2 separate regions of the Homo sapiens genome follow, and region 1 is linked to region 2. Evidence: fine-mapped expression QTL. A gene starts in region 2. The other region holds a variant in brackets. All regions are shown on one strand. Distances are between the middles of the regions.

Region 1 (8,321 bases), 22 kb after region 2:
ACCAAGGTTTTGGCAGGGCCACGTGGTCTCAGAAGGCTCCGTGGAGGGTGCTTCCTGGCTGCCTCCAGCTTCTGGAAGTTGCTGGCAATGCCCAGCCCTCTGTGGCTTCCAGATGCACAACTCCAACCTCAGCCTTTGACTTCCCGTGAGCTTTACGCCATGTGCCTCTGCGTCTCTTCTAAGACTCCAGTCACTGGGTCTCCTTCATGACCTCATCTTAACTGGATTACATCTGCACAGATCCTGTTTCCAAACAATGGCAGGTTCCGGGGGTTAGGACTTCCACCTGTCTTTTTGGGGGACATAGCCTGATCCACAACAATCATCACTGTCAATCATCATCACCTCATTAGCATCATTGTCAATCAATTACCCAGCTGCTCAGGAGGCCGAGGCAGGAAGATTGCTTGAGCCCAGGAGGTGGAGACTGCAGCGTGAGCTGTGATTGTACTCCAGCCTGGGTGACAGAATGGGATGTTATCTCAAAAACAAACACAGGGCCAGCTGTGGTGGGTCATGCCTGTAATCCCAGCACTTTGGGAGACCGAGGCAGACGGATCACGAGGGTAGGAGTTTGAGACCAGCTTGACTAACATGGTGAAATCTCCTTTCTACTAAAAATACAAAAATTAGCTGGGTGTGATGGCACGTGCCTGTAATCCCTGCTACTCAGGAAGCTGAGGCAGGAGAATGGCTTGAACCTGGGAGGCGGAGGTTACAGTGAACTGAGATAGATAGCGCCACTACACTGCAGCCTGGGCAACAAAGCAACACTCCATCTCAAAAAAAAAAAACAAAAAAACACACACACACAGAACAACCTCCTTGTCAATCTGTTCCTTTTAATGGTAGAACTCCTTGGAAAACACTTCTCCGGTGTGCCTCTGTGCCGCAACCCCTCTTCTCTACACTAACTCTGAGACCCTCTCCGGGTTTCCTGGGCCCGTGGTGGCTGCTCTGCCCCCTTCCCTCCCTGGGCTTCTGGTTTCCCGGCTTTGATGCCATCGTGCCCAGGTTCAGCCCCTGGGCCTCTCCTGTATCTGTCCACACTCATGCTCCGGGGAACCATGCTAACAAGTTACACAACTTGCTAGCTTGGATGACCCACTGTGATCTCACAGTGCTGTGGGTCAGGAGCGCCCCCACTGCCCAGGCTAAAGTCAAGGGTTGGCTCCAGGAAACTCCAGGGAGAATCCATTTCCTGCCCTTTCCAGCTTCTAGAGGCACCCGTATCCTTGGCTAATGGTCCTTCCTCCGAGCCAGCCCTGCAGTGCCCTCAGGCCTCACGTTCTCACCCAGACCCCCTGCTGCCTCTAACGAGGGCTTTTTTTTTTTTTTTTTTTTTTTGAGATGGAGTCTGGCTCTGTTGCCCAGGCTAGAGGGCAGTGGCGTGATGTCAGCTCATTGCCACCTCTACCTCCTGGGTTCAAGCAATTCTCCCGTCTCAGACTCCTGAGTAGTTGGGATTACAGGCACGCACCACCAGGCCCGGCTCATTTTGTATTTTTAGTAGAGATGGGGTTTTGTCATGTTGGCCAGGCTGGTCTCGAACTCCTGACCTCAGGTGATCTGCCCATCTTGGCCTCCCGAGTTGCTGGCATCACAGGTGTGAGCCACTGTGCCCGGCCTTACCGAGGGTTCTTGTGATGGCATCAGGCTCAGCTGGCTGCTGCAGAAAAACGCCTCCATCCCAAGATCTTTAATCATCTGCAGCCCCTTTGGCTGTGGGGACTCACAGGTCCCAGGGCTGAGACGTGGACTCTCTGGGGCTGTCGCTCAGCTGCTGAGGTGGCTTCTCCTTCCTGGGGCTGCAAGCGCCAGTCTTGTTGGCCCGGCTGCCTCTCCAGCGTCCCCACTGGGCTGTCCATGGCCTTTGACTTACCATGTCCTGATCTCCAAATGGCCCTGGCTGTCACTCCACATCATGCAGTACTGTGTGCCCTCAGGTCACACCAAACGCTGGTGGCCCACACCTGACTTGGGAAGGGGCAGGGCCCAGGCAGAGGAAGAGGATGACGGGGTGCCAGCCTGAGCCTGGAAGATGGGGGTCCCCGGCTGCCTCCTGACCCCATCCTCTGGCCCTCTCCCCGCAGACGGCATCCTGTCCTTCTTGAAGAACAACAAGCCAGGGGACGCGCTGTGTGTGCTGGGCCTCACACTGTCTGACCTGTACCCCCATGAGGCCTGGAGCTTCACCTTCAGCAAGTTCCTTCCAGGGCACGGTGAGCCGGGGCCCCAGCAGCTGTGCGTGGGGGGTAGCCTGGCATGGGGCTGTGGCCTCCGTGGCTGCAGGGCACCCTCTTTGCTTTTGCTTCAAGCACCCTCCTGGTGGAAGTCAACACCTGTGCATGGGAATAGATGGCCCCTTCCAGCTCCTCCTGAGGAATGGCATAGGGGCTGTTCCTCAGCTGTGGCGTCTGCCCCAGGGCCCAACTTCATGTGGGCAGGACAGGGCCTCCCAGGACTGGTATGTCTTTGGGCCATGGCCAGCTTGCATGAGAGCATGAGGTGGGTTTGACGGTGGGCCCCCCAGAGCCAAGGCTGACCCCTGAGAGTGCCCTTCTCTCCATCTCTCTCCAGAAGTGGGCGTCTGCAGCTTCGCCCGGTTCTCAGGGGAATTCCCGAAGTCGGGGCCCAGCGCCCCTGATCTGGCCCTGGTAGAGGCAGCAGCAGACGGCCCCGAGGCCCCCCTGCAGGACAGGGGCTGGGCCCTGTGCTTCAGTGCCCTGGGGATGGTTCAGTGCTGCAAGGTGGGTGGGGGCTCTGGGGCTGGTAAGAGGGGACAGGAGGGTGCTGTCTGAGCCCTTGGTGCCTCGGTCTGTTACACTGCCCCATCCTCACAGTGAAGTGGATGGACCCCTAACTCTATGGAATGAGGAAAGCAAGGCTACACAGCTATGAAGCAGCAGGGGAGGGATTAGAGCCCCAAGCCCCTATCCTGTGTGGCCTCCCACCCTGACTCACCTTTCCCCTGGGGCCCTGAAAGTGGCCTGTGCCGCCTGGGGCAGGGGGAGGGCGCCTGGACCACCTCCCGGCCATCTGGCCTCACCCAGGTCCTCATTTTGGTCCTGCTGGGGCTGCCTGGGGATCTGCCGGATGCAGGGGCAAGGCAGTGAGGCAAGGTGCTTGGTGGCCTTCCCCCCAGGTCACGTGCCACGAGCTCTGCCACCTTCTGGGCCTGGGGAACTGCCGCTGGCTCCGCTGCCTCATGCAGGGTGCGCTCAGCCTGGACGAGGCCCTGCGGCGGCCCCTGGACCTCTGTCCCATCTGCCTGAGGAAGCTGCAGCATGTCCTGGGTTTCAGGCTCATCGAGAGGTACCAGGTGAGTGGCTGAGTTGCGCTGCCCGGCTGCTGGGACCTGCGCTCCGGAGGCCCGCGAGCGCCGCCTGGAGGCTACGCAGGGCATGGGGACCGCACACAGGCTTTGTCAACTGCCGGGTTCCAGGCAGTGCAGAGCCCTGGGACCTGCGCTGGGGTTGAGCTCCATCCGGATCTCACTGGCAGTAGATCGAGTCCTGCCAGGGCCCGCGTGTGGTGGCTGTGACTGGGAGGTTGCAGCGGGGTCGAGTGGGGACGAGGGCTTTTCTCCCTCTGTCAGGAAGAGCTGGCATTGGAGCCCAGCCGGCGGGTGGCACGGTCTTCCCAGGGTAACTTTCTCTTTGCTTTCCCGTCACCCACACTTGGGTCACTGCTGCTCAGAGGAGGCACAGGCCCCTTGCGAGGAGGTGGGAGCTGACACAACAAGGCTTGTTGGAGGTGGCCTCCATTCCTAACTCCCTCTGTCGCCTGGGTGGGGTTGCCGAGCAAAGGGCTCGTCCGTATTCATGGACATTTGTTTGCAAGCTCAAAAGCTTTACTCTGAGTTCTGAGTGCAAAGGCAGGTGGTGGTAATTTTTCTTCAAACCCAGCTTTGGACTACAACCAGTTATAAGGTGCTCACTG[C/T]GTACAGGCACCAGAGCAGTCAATGAAACCGCGCTGGAAAGCCCCTGCATCCTCCTCCCGCCCGTTGAGGCAAGTGGGGGTGTGGTTCCCGGACCGAGCCTGTCAGAATCCCCTGCAGGGCCTAGCTGGGCCCTCCTTCCTTCTGGGGTAGAGTGAGGAGCTGTATCTTGCAGGGTCCTGGGTGACACTGAACTAGAGGCCGTGGCATTTCTAGCTCACAGTGCTGGAATCTCTCTGCAGGGATCCTCTCTGAAGACTCTGGCAGTCAAGGGAAGGTGAAGGGGGCACAGAGGAAACAGCTTTTCCAAGTGTAAGGAGAAGAGCCTGTGACTTGGGGGGAACCCAGGCGCAGCCATGGCTGAGGGTAGGAGCATCTCCCGAGGGTACAGGTGGCGTGATGGCTGGTCAGCACCTGGTGATGCCTTGTAAAGGTTGCTGCTGCCAGCTGTGCCCCGTCAAGGGGCAGCTCTTAGTACCTTCCTGAGGCTGTGTAACAGGCACAGGGGCAGCTTGGTCTGCAGAAAGGGTTGAGAGCTCTCATTTGATGCCTTCACCTGGGGTCTTGTGCAACCATCTGACATGAACTTTTAGAAAGTGTATGCCCCTCCCTACACGTGCTGACCTGGCATAGCCTGGATCCACCTGGATCTGAGCTGGAGGGTGTAGCTCCTCCTCCTGCCCAGAGCTCTCTCCGTTCCGTGAGCACCATCTCCTGAGGCTGTGGAGGGAAGAGGGCCAGGGCAAAGGCACTCCAGGGTGGCCTGGCCCTCCTGGCTGTTGTAGGGAGGGCAGTGGTGTGGATGTGAGGTCACCTGCTGTCCCAGGGCTTGGGGAGGTGCTGGAGAGCTGACCAAGGGCCTGGCCAGAAAAGGTCACTGCTGTCCACTGACAGCAATCAGTGAAATGCCTCTTGAAGAAAGCCTGACTTGTTGTGGTCTCTGCCACTTCCTGTGGTGTAAACAGTCTCACGATGGCTGATGTGAGCTCCCAATGTGATGTCAGTGAGTGCTGAGTTGGGAACAGATGTGCAGTGGGACCTTGTTAAACTGTGTGTCCCCTGTACAGATGCAGGAGAGGAGACTAACCTTGAGAGCAGAGGTGAGAGTGAAATGGAGAAAACATTTAGGAAGTGAGTTTCAAGTACTGCCTTTGCTTTACATTTTTTTCCCCCTGGTGGTCTCACTATGTTGCCCAGGCTGGTCTTGAACTCCTGGTTTCAAGTGATCCTCCTGCCTCTGCCTCCCTGTGCTGGGATTACAAGCGTGAGCCACCATGCCCACACCTTTGCTTTAAAATTTTAAATTTTATTTAATTATACGCTTTCTGGGTGGGTGCCGTGGCTCACACCTGTAATCCCAGCACTTTGGGAGGCGGAGGTGGGTGGGTCATCTGAGGTCAGGAGTTTGAGACCAGCCTGGCTAACATGGTGAAACCCCGTCTCCACTAAAAAATGTAAAAATTAGCCAGGCATGCTGGCAGGAACCTGTAAAATCCCTGCTACTCAGGAGGCCAACGCAGGAGAATTGCTTGAACCTGGGAGGGGGAGGTTGCAGTGAGCTGAGATCGCAGCACTGCACTCCAGCCTGGCCAACAGAGTGAGCCTCTGTCTTAAAAAAATCGAAAAATGTTAAGTGTTCTAACTTTGGATGACAAGGAGCTTGCGAAGTTCCTGAATGGTGAGCTCTTGGGGGTGGGTACCTCTGACTCTGGCACAGCCTGGACATGAGTCCTCAAAGGGTGCTGGTCACAAGAGCCCTCACACCACCAGCCTGACTCCCGCCCCTGGGTAACTGAGGACGGTGGGGTCCCCTTAGGTAAGGAGGTCTCCTGGCAGTTCCCTGGCTAGACAAGGGCTGGCACGGAGCAAACTCAGCCTGTGTTTCTCCCTCTTAGAGACTCTACACCTGGACTCAGGCGGTGGTGGGGACGTGGCCCAGCCAGGAGGCGGGGGAGCCGTCAGTGTGGGAGGACACCCCGCCTGCCAGCGCCGACTCGGGCATGTGCTGTGAGAGTGACTCGGAGCCCGGCACCAGTGTGTCGGAGCCCCTCACCCCTGATGCCGGGAGTCACACCTTCGCCTCGGGGCCAGAGGAAGGGCTGAGCTACCTGGCAGCCTCAGAGGCTCCGCTGCCACCTGGGGGCCCTGCGGAGGCCATCAAGGAGCATGAACGGTGGCTGGCCATGTGCATCCAGGCCCTGCAGCGGGAAGTGGCAGAGGAGGACCTGGTGCAGGTGGACAGAGCCGTGGACGCCCTCGACCGCTGGGAGATGTTCACGGGCCAGCTCCCGGCCACCAGGCAGGACCCACCCAGCAGCAGGGACAGCGTGGGGCTGCGCAAGGTGCTGGGGGACAAGTTCTCCTCCCTGAGGAGGAAGCTGAGTGCCCGAAAACTCGCCAGAGCAGAGTCGGCCCCCCGTCCCTGGGATGGGGAAGAGAGTTAGTACAGCAGGGGCTGCCCTACGTCTCCTTCCCTAAGGATGCTGGCCAGCACTGTCCAGTAGCTGAGGCCACTACTGACCTGCCAGGGATAAAGAGGAAGGGTCTGCCTGGGTGGTGGCTCAGGCCTGTCATCCCATCACTTTGAGAGGCCAGGAGTTTGAGACCAGACTGGGCAACATGGTGAGACTCTGCCTCTACAAAAGAAAAATTAAAAAATTAGCTGGATGAAGTGGTTCATGCCTGTGTTCCCAGCTATTCAGGAGGCTGAGGTGGGAGGATTGCTTGAGCCTAGGAGGTCGAGGCTGCAGTGGGATGTGATCATACCACTGTACTGCAGTCTGGGCCACACAGAAAGACTGTCTCCAGAAAAAAAAAAGTTCTTTGGAGAAGCCACAGACCACCTGTCTTCAGGCGCCTCCTTCAACTCCTGAGTCCCAGCCAGCCGCTCCCAGGGGCCTGCACACATGGAGAGGCCTCCCTGATCCTGGGTGCTTCTCGTGGAGTACAAGCCGGACTGTGCTGAGGTTGGGACAGAGCCCCCTCCCCTGCAGAGGCAGAAGGAAGCAGCGTGCGTCCTGTCTCCTTCCAGGCTGTGGGCCTGCCCTTCAGTTATTTATAGCTGGAGCTGGAGAGGCTGGCTCAGATGAGGAGTGACCCCGGGGGCACACAGGCTCCACACTGCCACCCAGCTTCCAAGGCTGAGTCTCCTCCCTAACGGGGAAGTGACGGGGTTTTGTCTCTATCATCTCAGGCGTCAACCACATGCACACACACACTGTCACGTTCTGTGGCGCTAACAGCATCCTGATCCTGACGGACTTCACCGGGGCTCTCCAGGCATCTCTTCTGACAAACACTGCAGGAGGTGAGGGTGTCTGACGTGCACTGAGGGCAGAGGCCCCCTTATTCCTGAGGCGGCTACAGCTCACCGTGGGGAAGATCAACTGTGGTGATGTTTTTGGGACAGTTTCTTGGCAAAGGTGGCCGCGCTGTCAGTACCAAGTAGCTGGAGGTGGTGATCAGATGATCTGTCTTTCCTTTTTTTTTCGGTCTAGTTCTGTCAGTTGCTGAGAGAGGGGTATTATTGCCATGGCTGGGCGTTTGATCTGTCTCCCTTTAGTTTTGCCGGATTTTGCTTCCTGCACTTTGAAGCTCCTTTACGTCCCTGCACATTTGATTGTTGTGTCTTCCTGAGGAATTGACCCTTTTATTGTCACACGTACCCCCTCAGCCTGTGGTGGAGGGTCTCTGGGAGAGAGACTTCCGGTTCTGACAGCGGAATCCCTTCGGAGTGACGAGGGCGGGGTCACAGCTCGCGCACCCTCATCTGGAGAGAGGCAAGAACAGGGCAGCTTGGACCTTTTGTGGGTGGGTGGCTCACACGGTTATGGAGGGCTTCTAAGAAAAACAAAATACAAAACTAAAACTAGAAGGGCTATGCAGGTGAGGTGGGCTGAGGCTTCCTTGTGAATCTGACATTGGTGGAGGCCGACTGAAGGCTCCCGGTCCTGGTCCCACTCCGTGTTGACTTCAGAGAAGCAAAGATGCAGCTCAGAAGTAGCATTAGGATCTTCGTCCCGTTCTCTTTTGCGTAGCTTCAAAAAGGCGTAACAGTGACCTGGGAGGGGAGATGAAGAGCTAGGCCTTTCAGAAAGTGACCAATGGAAGGTGCCGGCAGAGCACCCTGCAGTAACAGAAGGTGAAAGCCGGAGCCTGGTGGCTGTTGCTGCAAACAACCACCCAAAACTTAGTGGCTTAAAATCACCACAGTCTAGCTCATGAATCTGTAACTTGGGCAGAGCTCGGTGGAGACGGTTTGCCCCTGTGGCTCGACTGGAGTGTTCGTTCACACGGCTGCCAAGTGGAATTTGGCTGGGAATCTCAGGCCTTGGTTCCTGCCCACGTGAGACTCTCCATGGAGGAGGGGCATCTTCTTAGG
Region 2 (8,321 bases):
AGTAGGCACATTTTTGGGAGCCGCTATGTAACCCACCCTGGGGAAACTGAGGCAGGGCAAGGTGAAGCAGCTTCCCCAGGCCACACAGTTCTCTTTTAACCCCAAGTCGGCCTGGGTCAGAGGATGGTGATGGGGTCAAAGTTGGGGGCGGCCCCCTTTGTTCATCACTGAAAGGACAGGGGTCCCCATATCACGGCCTCTTTCTAGAATAGACTCTGACGAGGTAGCTTCAACCAGAAAGGGGTGTGCAGTCTGCCGGTGGGAGACCAGCGTGTCCCGGGTGCAGTGTGGACAGGGCGTTGGCTGAGTGAAGCCTTGGCTGGCAGGGGCCAGGTCATCAGCAGGCTGCCTCTGTGTTTCGGGGGTCCTGGCACTGGGCATGGCGCCACCCAACTTGGGGCACCCAGGAGGGGCCCTACTCATCTGGGCTTCCAGTCTCCCGGGCTGACCCAACAGACAGAGGAGGAACTGCCACTCTGGGCTTGACACATAATTGCTTTTTTTTTTTTTTTTTTTGAGACGGAGTCTCTGTCGCCCAGGCTGGAGTGCAGTGGCGCGATCTCAGCTCACTGCAAGCTCCGCCTCCCAGGTTCACGCCATTCTCCTGCCTCAGCCTCCTGAGTAGCTGGGACTACAGGCGCCCGCCACCACGCCCGGCTAATTTTTTGTATCTTTAGTAAAGATGGAGTTTCACTGTGTTAGCCAGGATGGTCTTGATCTTCTGACCTCGTGATCCGCCCGCCTCGGCCTCCCAAAGTGCTGGGATTACAGGTTGAGCCGCCGCGCCCGGCCTCGATGCATAATTTCCTTTCCGGTGGCTATTCAGGGAGGGGCGTGGGGGTTGGGGGGAGGATATTCCACAACTTCTTTGTAATAAGCAGCTTTAGGACAGAACATTCAGGCCAGGCTCGGTGGCTCACGCCTGTAATCCCAGCAATTTGGGAGGCCAAGGCGGGTGGATCACTTGAAGTCAGGAGTTCGAGACCAGCCTGGCCAACAGGGTGAAGCCCTGTCCTTCCTAAAAATACAAAAATTAGCCGGGCGAGGTGACGGGCACCTGTAATCGCAGCTACTTGGGTGGCTGAGGCAGGAGAATCGCTTGAACCCAGGAAGTGGAGTTTGCAGTGAGCCGAGATCGCGCCACTTGTACTCCAGCTCTGGGCAACAGAGTGAGACTCCGTCTCAAAAAAAAAAAAAGGCCGGGTGCGGTGGCTCATGCCTGTAATCCCAGCACTTTGGGAGGCCGTGGCAGGCGGATCACGAGGTCAGGAGATCGAGACCATCCTGGCCAACATGGTGAAACCCCATCTCTACTAAAAACACAAAAATTAGCTAGGCATGATGGCAGGCGCCTGTAGTCCCAGCTACTTAGGAGGCTGAGGCAGGAGAATGGTGTGAACCCGGGAGGTGGAGCTTGCAGTGAGCCGAGATCACGCCACTGCACTCCAGCCTGAGTGACAGAGCGAGACTCCGTCTCAAGAAAAAAAAAAAAAAAAAAAAAAGAACATTCATCTTTTCTCAGGTTCTGGGTTCTCCATCCCCAACAGAAATAACCTGGAAAATCCCTGCGGCAACACGTGTGAAGAAGTGCAGCTTTCTGAGTCACAATCTATTTGTAGGAATTTATCCCAAGGTGAGGGGGACCAGATACCTGTACAAAGATCTGTGGAAACAAGATCGTCTATCACAGTGATATATGCTAGTGAGACACCAGGAGAAACCAAAATATCCCAAAGCAGGTGACAGATCCATGACACGGAGTCCAGCGCAGACCATCAGGGTGTGGAGACGGACTTTTGGCTATTGATGAGTGTGAAGTCACGGGCCGCCTGCAGAACGCAGTATGTGACGTGAATCCCTTAAAATATGTATTTAGGCTGGGCACGGTGGCTCATACCTGTGATCTCAACATTTTGGGAGGCCGAGCTGGGAGGGTTGTTTGAGCCCAGGAGTTTGAGACCAGCTTGAGCAACATAGCGAGATCCCATCTCTACATAAAAGTTTCAAAATTAGCCAGGTGTGATGGCACGTACCTGTAGTCTCAGCTACTCAGGAGGCTGAGGGAGGAGGATTGCTGGAGTCTAGGAGGTCGAGGCTACAGTGACTCGCGTTTATACCAGTGCATTCTAGCTTGGGCAATAGAGCAAGATCCTGTCTCAAAAAAAACTTTTTAAAAATACATTTCAATGTGGAGGAGAAGGCGATCAGAAGGATGTCTGACAAGAAGGTGAGAGAGGTTACCTCTACACAGTTGGCTTATGGGGTCTTCTTTTTGTTTTTATTTTTCATAATTTTCCAAATTTTGCACACCGGACACCTAGTGTTGTGTTGTTTTTCTCTCTCTCTCTTTTTTTTTTGAAACAAAGTCTTGCTTTGTCACCCAGGCTGGAGTGCAGTGGCATAATCTCGGCTCACTGCAACCTCCGCCTCCCGGGTTCAAGTGATTCTCCTGCTTCAGCCTCCCGAGTAGCTGGGACTATAGGCACCAGCCACCACGCCCAGCTAATTTTTTTATTTTTAATAGAGACGGGGTTTGACCATACTGGCCAGGCCGGTCTTGAACTCCTGACCTTGTGATCTGTCTGCCTCAGCCTCCCAAAGTGCTGGGATTACAGGCATGAGCCACCACGCCCAGCCGTGTTATTTCTTAAGGCTTAAAAAAATTCTTTGAGGCTGGGTGTGGTGGCTCACGCCTGTACTCCCAGCACTTTGAGAGGCTGAGGCGGGTGTATCATGAGGTCAAGAGTTTGATACCAGCCTGGCCAAGAAGGTGAAACCCCATCTCTATTAAAAATACAAAAATTAGCTGGACACAATGATGGGTACCTATAATCCCCACTACTCAGGCGGCTGAGGCAGAAGAATGACTTGAACCCCGGAGGTGGAGGTTGCAGTGAGCCCAGATTGCACCATTACACTCCAGCCTGGGCGACAGAGCGAGACTCCATCTAAAAAAAAAAAAAAATTCTTTGCACTGGTGTGGGACGATGGTGACGAATCCCTCAGCCATCTGTGGGGCGCTGCTGAGGGCGTGGGGGGCATTTCTGCACGGTGAAGCAGAGCTGGTGGGAGGCTGCCCGAGGGAAGCTGGTGCTGGGAGGGTTTGCAGAGAGGAAAAGGGCAGTTTATGGAAAAGGCCTCTGGGCTCTGTCTGGAGCCGTCATGCCGGCCTTCACGGCATCCTTCCGCACTTAGAGTCCTTTCCATCTCCTGGTGGCTGGCACAGGGCCAGGGCTGCACTCACAGCTGGCCAGGGTAGGGCAGGGCGCCCGTCCTCAGGGCCACTGACTGTAGGGCTAACCTAGGGGCCTGGTTCACCCCTCTCACCTGGGGCTTCGCTGATAAGCCTGGTTCACCTCCTCACCTGGTGGCCTCGTTCACCCCCTCACCTGGCGCCTTGCCTGATAGCCTGGTTCACCCCTCTCACCTGGGGCCTCTCCTGGTGGCCTGGTTCCCCTTCCTCACCTCGTGGCGCTGGTTCACCCCTCTCACCTGGGGCCTTAACTGGTGGCCTGGTTCACCTCTTCACCTGGCGCCTTGCAGAGTAGCCGGGTTTACTCCTCTCACCTGGGGAGGCACGAACTGGCCCGGGCTGACTGACCTCCCTCACCTGTTTGGCTTTAGGCTCTGGGGCCCCCCTGCCCGGGTGTTTCTGGGAGGCTGGAGGGTCCCACGTGAGCTCCACCGCGGGCAGCTGGAGGGAGTGGGGCAGGACGCTGAGCGCCGGGAGGGGTGTGGCCCTCCTGTCCTGCCCGCGGCCCCACACCGGCCCCAGTCCCGCCCGCCTCGGTCCCTGCCCCGCGCGCCGACGTCACCGGGACCTCCCGATCCTCCCGGCCCAGGCCGAGCTGCCCACGCTGCTGCCCGGGGCTCGGTGCCCGGCGCGGCCTCTGCCGGCTCCGGCGGGCGCGGGACTGCGAGGTAGGGGGGCGCGCGGGGAAGACTCGGGGGCGCAGGGACCGAGAGGGACCTCCGTGCCGGGGCGGGTGGGTAGGGGCAGCTCCGGGTCCAGCCCGGCCCGCGCACCAAGTCCCGAGGGCGCCCGGGCGGCGGCGGCTACGGGCGCGCGGGGACCGCGGAGACGCGAAGGGCGCACTTGGCGAGGGTTTGGTGCAGCGCCGCGCCGGGGTCCGCACAGCCCCGGCAGGTCCTGCAGAGGGAAGGCCGGGCCAGGGAAGGGCCACGCGCCCCCTCCCCGCCATCCTCTCCCAGGCCAGGGCGACCTGCGCGCTTCCCGATGGGAGCAAACTGGGGACGGGTCGGGAATCCAGGGCCAAGCGCCCGAAAGAAGGCGTTTCCGGGCTGGGGCGAGCCAGGTGGGTGCGGGACGTCCCCGGGGAACCTCCAGGGCGCCGAGAATCTCGTCGTGCCCAGGGCTCCCCGCAGCCTGTGTATGAGCCGGGGAGGGAGAAGGCTTCCTCCCCCAGGAGACTGAGGGAGAAGGCTGTGGATATGATCCCTGCAGGGATGTAAGACAGGTCTCAAAACCAGAAAAGCAAGGGAGGGGTGACAGAGAAATGGCAAACTTTACAAAGGACAGGGGAGGGCAGGGACCTGGGTCCTTTCTGCCCCCATCACGGGAGGGAAACACTTGGCAGAGGAGTTTGGGGTTCGCAGGTGAGGAGAGAGAACAGGAAGCCAAGAGTCTGGCCCGGAGGCCACTACCCCTGCGGTCTAAGCCCCCGGTTTTCCCTCCTAGCGAATGGAAACTGAGAGGTGAGAAACCCCCAAAACCATCCGTCCGTCTGGTTCTGCCTGAAGGTCTCCGCTGTCAGCTAATGAATAGCTCGATGCAGCTGCTGGGAGGTTTTGCAAAGCGCATTCAGAATAGCGAGAATCAGAGCATGGTTTCTTGCCCAAAGGCCAGGCATCTGCGTGGTCAGATGGGGGAGCATGAGTGCCCGGAGCTGTGCGGTTTAGGGCAGCCTGACCTTGGATACCTGGTTACTGGGCCAGTCTGGCGGCCCTTGTTGCTTAGAGCGGCAGAACCTCCCTGGGGGGGGGATGCGGACGTGCTCTTTTCCAGTCTTTGGACAAAAAAAGGCAAGGGGAGGAGGAAGGAGAAGCGTCTGAGTTTACCCATGGTATTAATAGCAGCAGGGCTGGAACTCGGGTGCTCTGGGAGAGGAGACGTCCTACCCCCTGTCCCCGTCAGAACATCCCTGCTCCAGGAGCAGCTGGGGTTCCAGTGTGAAGCGTGGCTTTGAAACCAGGCCCCGCTGGCCCCCAGCTGTGTCGCCAGGGCCAAGTCACTTAACGTCTGAGCCTCAGTTTCCCCACCTGAAACACCGCAGTGGCACCTGCGGCTCCGTGTGTGGCTTGGAGGACGCAGGCATGAGACCTGTTGGCTGCTGTCATGACTGCAGTTAGCAGAGGAGGGGGACACACTGTGACAGGGTCCAAAGGACAGCGAGAAACCTCCATCTGGGGGTCTCCTTTTTGGAGCATGGATGGGTTGGTGAGTGCCAGAGGGTGCTGCGAAGCTGACCCCCACTAAGGCGGCTCCCTCCCCGTGGGTACCCCCAGGGCTCACATGCAGCTCTGGCTCTATGTGAGGAGTGGTCTTGTGCAGAAATGACCTGGCAGGATGGAAGGACTCAGCTGGCAGCTGACAGTGGGGACCGGGGTTTTCCTGAATGACCCACGAAGACGAATGTGGCCACAAGGCTTCTTGAGAGGAAATAGTATGTGGGCAGACGTCATGCCCTGGATGCCCGAGAGCTGTACCCGTGTTAAGGGATGGAGGGAGCTAAGCGTTCTCATTCCTAGCTTGGAGCCTGTCACACCATTCTCCAGTCTGCACTAGGAGGTGGCTGTGTTTTTGTGTGTGTGTGAGAGAGAGAGAGAGACAGACAGACAGACAGACAGGGTCTTGCTCTGTCTTCCAGGCTGGAATGCAGTGATGCAATCATAGCTCACCACAGCCTCGACCTCCAGGGCGAAAGCAATCCTCCCATCTCAGCCTCCCTAGTAGCTGGGACCACAGGCATGCACAACCATGCCCAGCTAATTTTTAAAATGTTTTGTAGAGACGGGGTTTTGCCATATTTCCCCAGGCTGGTCTCAAACTCCTGGACTCAAGCGATTGTCCCGGGAGGTGGCTATTTTTAGAGCTTGCCTCTCACATCCTGTTGATCTTCCAGCCGGGCTAGTCTGGAGCTGGCGTGGCCACTCCTTCCCGGGCGGCTCAGGTTGGCTGAAGGTGGTGTTGTGTCTCTGGCTGGGTTTCCGATGTAGATGCTCTTGAGTTACCCACGTGCCCGCCACTGCTTGCGGGTGTGCAAACGGCCTCTGTGGTCGTGGCTCCTCTGTGCGTGTGCTCTGGTCCCCTGCAAAACTTGTCGCTGTGGCCCTTCCTGTTGCTCCCATTCGGTCCTCCCTGAATAACTTAGATGGGCCTGAGGTTGGCAGTTTGGGCCCAAGTCACACCTGGAACCAATGTGGTAGGGCTTGTGAACTTTTGGTAAAAAGAAGGCATTTCTCAGCCGGGTGTGGTGGCTCACCTCTGAAATCCCAGTGCTTTGGGAGGCCGAGGCAGGCAGACCACTTGAGGCCAGGAGTTCGATACTAGCCTGGCCAACATGGTGAAACCCTGTCTCTACTAAAGATAACAAAATTAGCCTGGCATGGTGGCATGCGTCTGTAGTCCCAGCTACTAGGGAGGCTGAGGCATGAGAATCGCTTGAACCCTGGAGGAGAAGGAGGTTGCAGTGAGCTGAGATTGTGCCACTGCACTCCAGCCTGGGTGACAGAGGCAAAAAAAAAAAAAAAAAAAGCATTTCTCATTTCCTGATGCTTTGCCTGGAGTAGGAGGGTTTGCTGGCAGGGAAGCCTCTGACCAGGGTTTTCGGGTGGTCAGGTGGGTGTGGGTGCTGGCAGGAAAGCCCCCTCAAGAGTAGGGGAAGGTCCGTGTGTGAGGACTGGAGTCAGGGGTCTCTGTGCTGGGAGTCAAGATCCAGGTGAGCTGTGTAACCCTGGGCAAGTGGCTTTCCCTCTCTGAGCCTCAGTCTCCTGGGTTATGACATGGGTGAATCTCAGGATGGCTTTGGAGGTCGGACAAGGTGTTGCATCAGAAAGTGATTTTGGGCCGGGCGCGGTGGCTCACACATATAATCCCAGCACTTCGGGAGGCCGAGGCGGGTGGATCACAAGGTCAGGAGTCTGAGAACAGCTTGGCCAATATGGTGAAACCTCGTTTCTACTAAAAATACAAAAATAAGCTGGGTGTGGTCGTGAGCGCCTGCAGTCCCAGCTGTTCGGGAGGCTCAGGCAGTGAACCCAGGAGGCGGAGGTTGCAGTGAGCCGAGATTGCGCCACTGCACTCTAACCTGGGTGACAGAGCAAGGCTCCGTCTCAAAAAAAAAAAAAAAAAATAAGTGATTTTGGGGCTTTGCAGGGTGGCAGGCACCGGAAGGGGAATGTTGATCAGGGCTGGTCCAGGGTGCCCGCAGGTATTGCTATCTGTTTTACCATGTCATTCTCTGGAAAGCTGGGACACAGACCATCCTGGGCATCTGGAAGGCCCTGGGCTGCTCCAGAGAAATAATTGATAGGCCCCTGTGGACAGAACAAATAATTCTGAGCTGGCTGCGGCGCTAGGGGAATGATTTGGAGGTAACTGGGAGGTTATGGTGCTTGCCCCTTGTGGGCGGCAGTGCTGGTGAGTGGAAGGTCTGGGAGCGAGAAGCCGGTGAGCAGGTCATGTCACCGGTACCCAGAAACTACAAAAATAAGCTGGTGAGTCTCCTGTGGCGTCGGGTGCTCCGAGGCCGGCTAAGTGCCTCCTCCTCCTACTTGGGCCAGCCAGGCTCCTGGAGGAAGACAGGTGGGACCACACCCATCTCACAGGGAGGACACAGTGGGGTTGAAAGAGGACCGAGCTTGGCCGGGCGTGGTGGCTCACGCCTGTAATCCCAACACTCTGGGAGGCCGAGGCGGGCGGATCATGAGGTCAGGAGATCGAGACCATCCTGGCTAACACGTGAAACCCCATCTCTACTAAAAATACAAAAAAAAATTAGCCGGGTGTGGTGGCGGGCGCCTTTAGTCCCAGCTATTCGGGAGGCTGAGGCAGGAGAATCGCTTTAACCCGGGAAGCGGAGGTTGCAGTGAGCCGAGATTGTGCCACTGCACTCCAGCCTGGGTGATAGAGTGAGGCTCCATCTCAAAAAATAAAAAATAAATAAAGAGGACCAAGCTCATGCCAGAGCCCTCGGAGTTGTTGAGGGCATTCCAGCTTCAGGGGTTTCCTGGGCGCCTCTTCCGTAGCGAGGTCCCCAGGAGTCCCCGAGGGGACTCTGAGAGGTTGCAGGGGGTGCTGC

Evidence for each region.
Region 1: its variant is fine-mapped to the expression of AMZ1 in whole blood (TOPMed, PIP 0.92).

What each region holds. Positions count from the first base shown.
Region 1 is chr7:2,706,495-2,714,815 of GRCh38, forward strand. It overlaps AMZ1 (archaelysin family metallopeptidase 1), which reads left to right. Exons shown (of 7, transcript NM_001384743.1): 4 at 2,094-2,222; 5 at 2,581-2,750; 6 at 3,146-3,322; 7 at 5,836-8,321. The coding sequence ends at 6,384. Among named protein-coding and RNA genes, the nearest start is that of AMZ1, 22 kb to the left of the region's middle. RefSeq lists enhancers at 3,050-3,149, 3,069-3,764, 3,910-4,129, 4,140-4,189, 4,830-4,989 and silencers at 3,310-3,469, 6,648-6,847. The variant C/T (reference allele first, on the strand shown) is at 3,943.
Region 2 is chr7:2,684,376-2,692,696 of GRCh38, forward strand. It overlaps AMZ1 (archaelysin family metallopeptidase 1), which reads left to right and starts at 3,827. Exons shown (of 7, transcript NM_001384743.1): 1 at 3,827-3,921. RefSeq lists an enhancer at 4,526-4,795.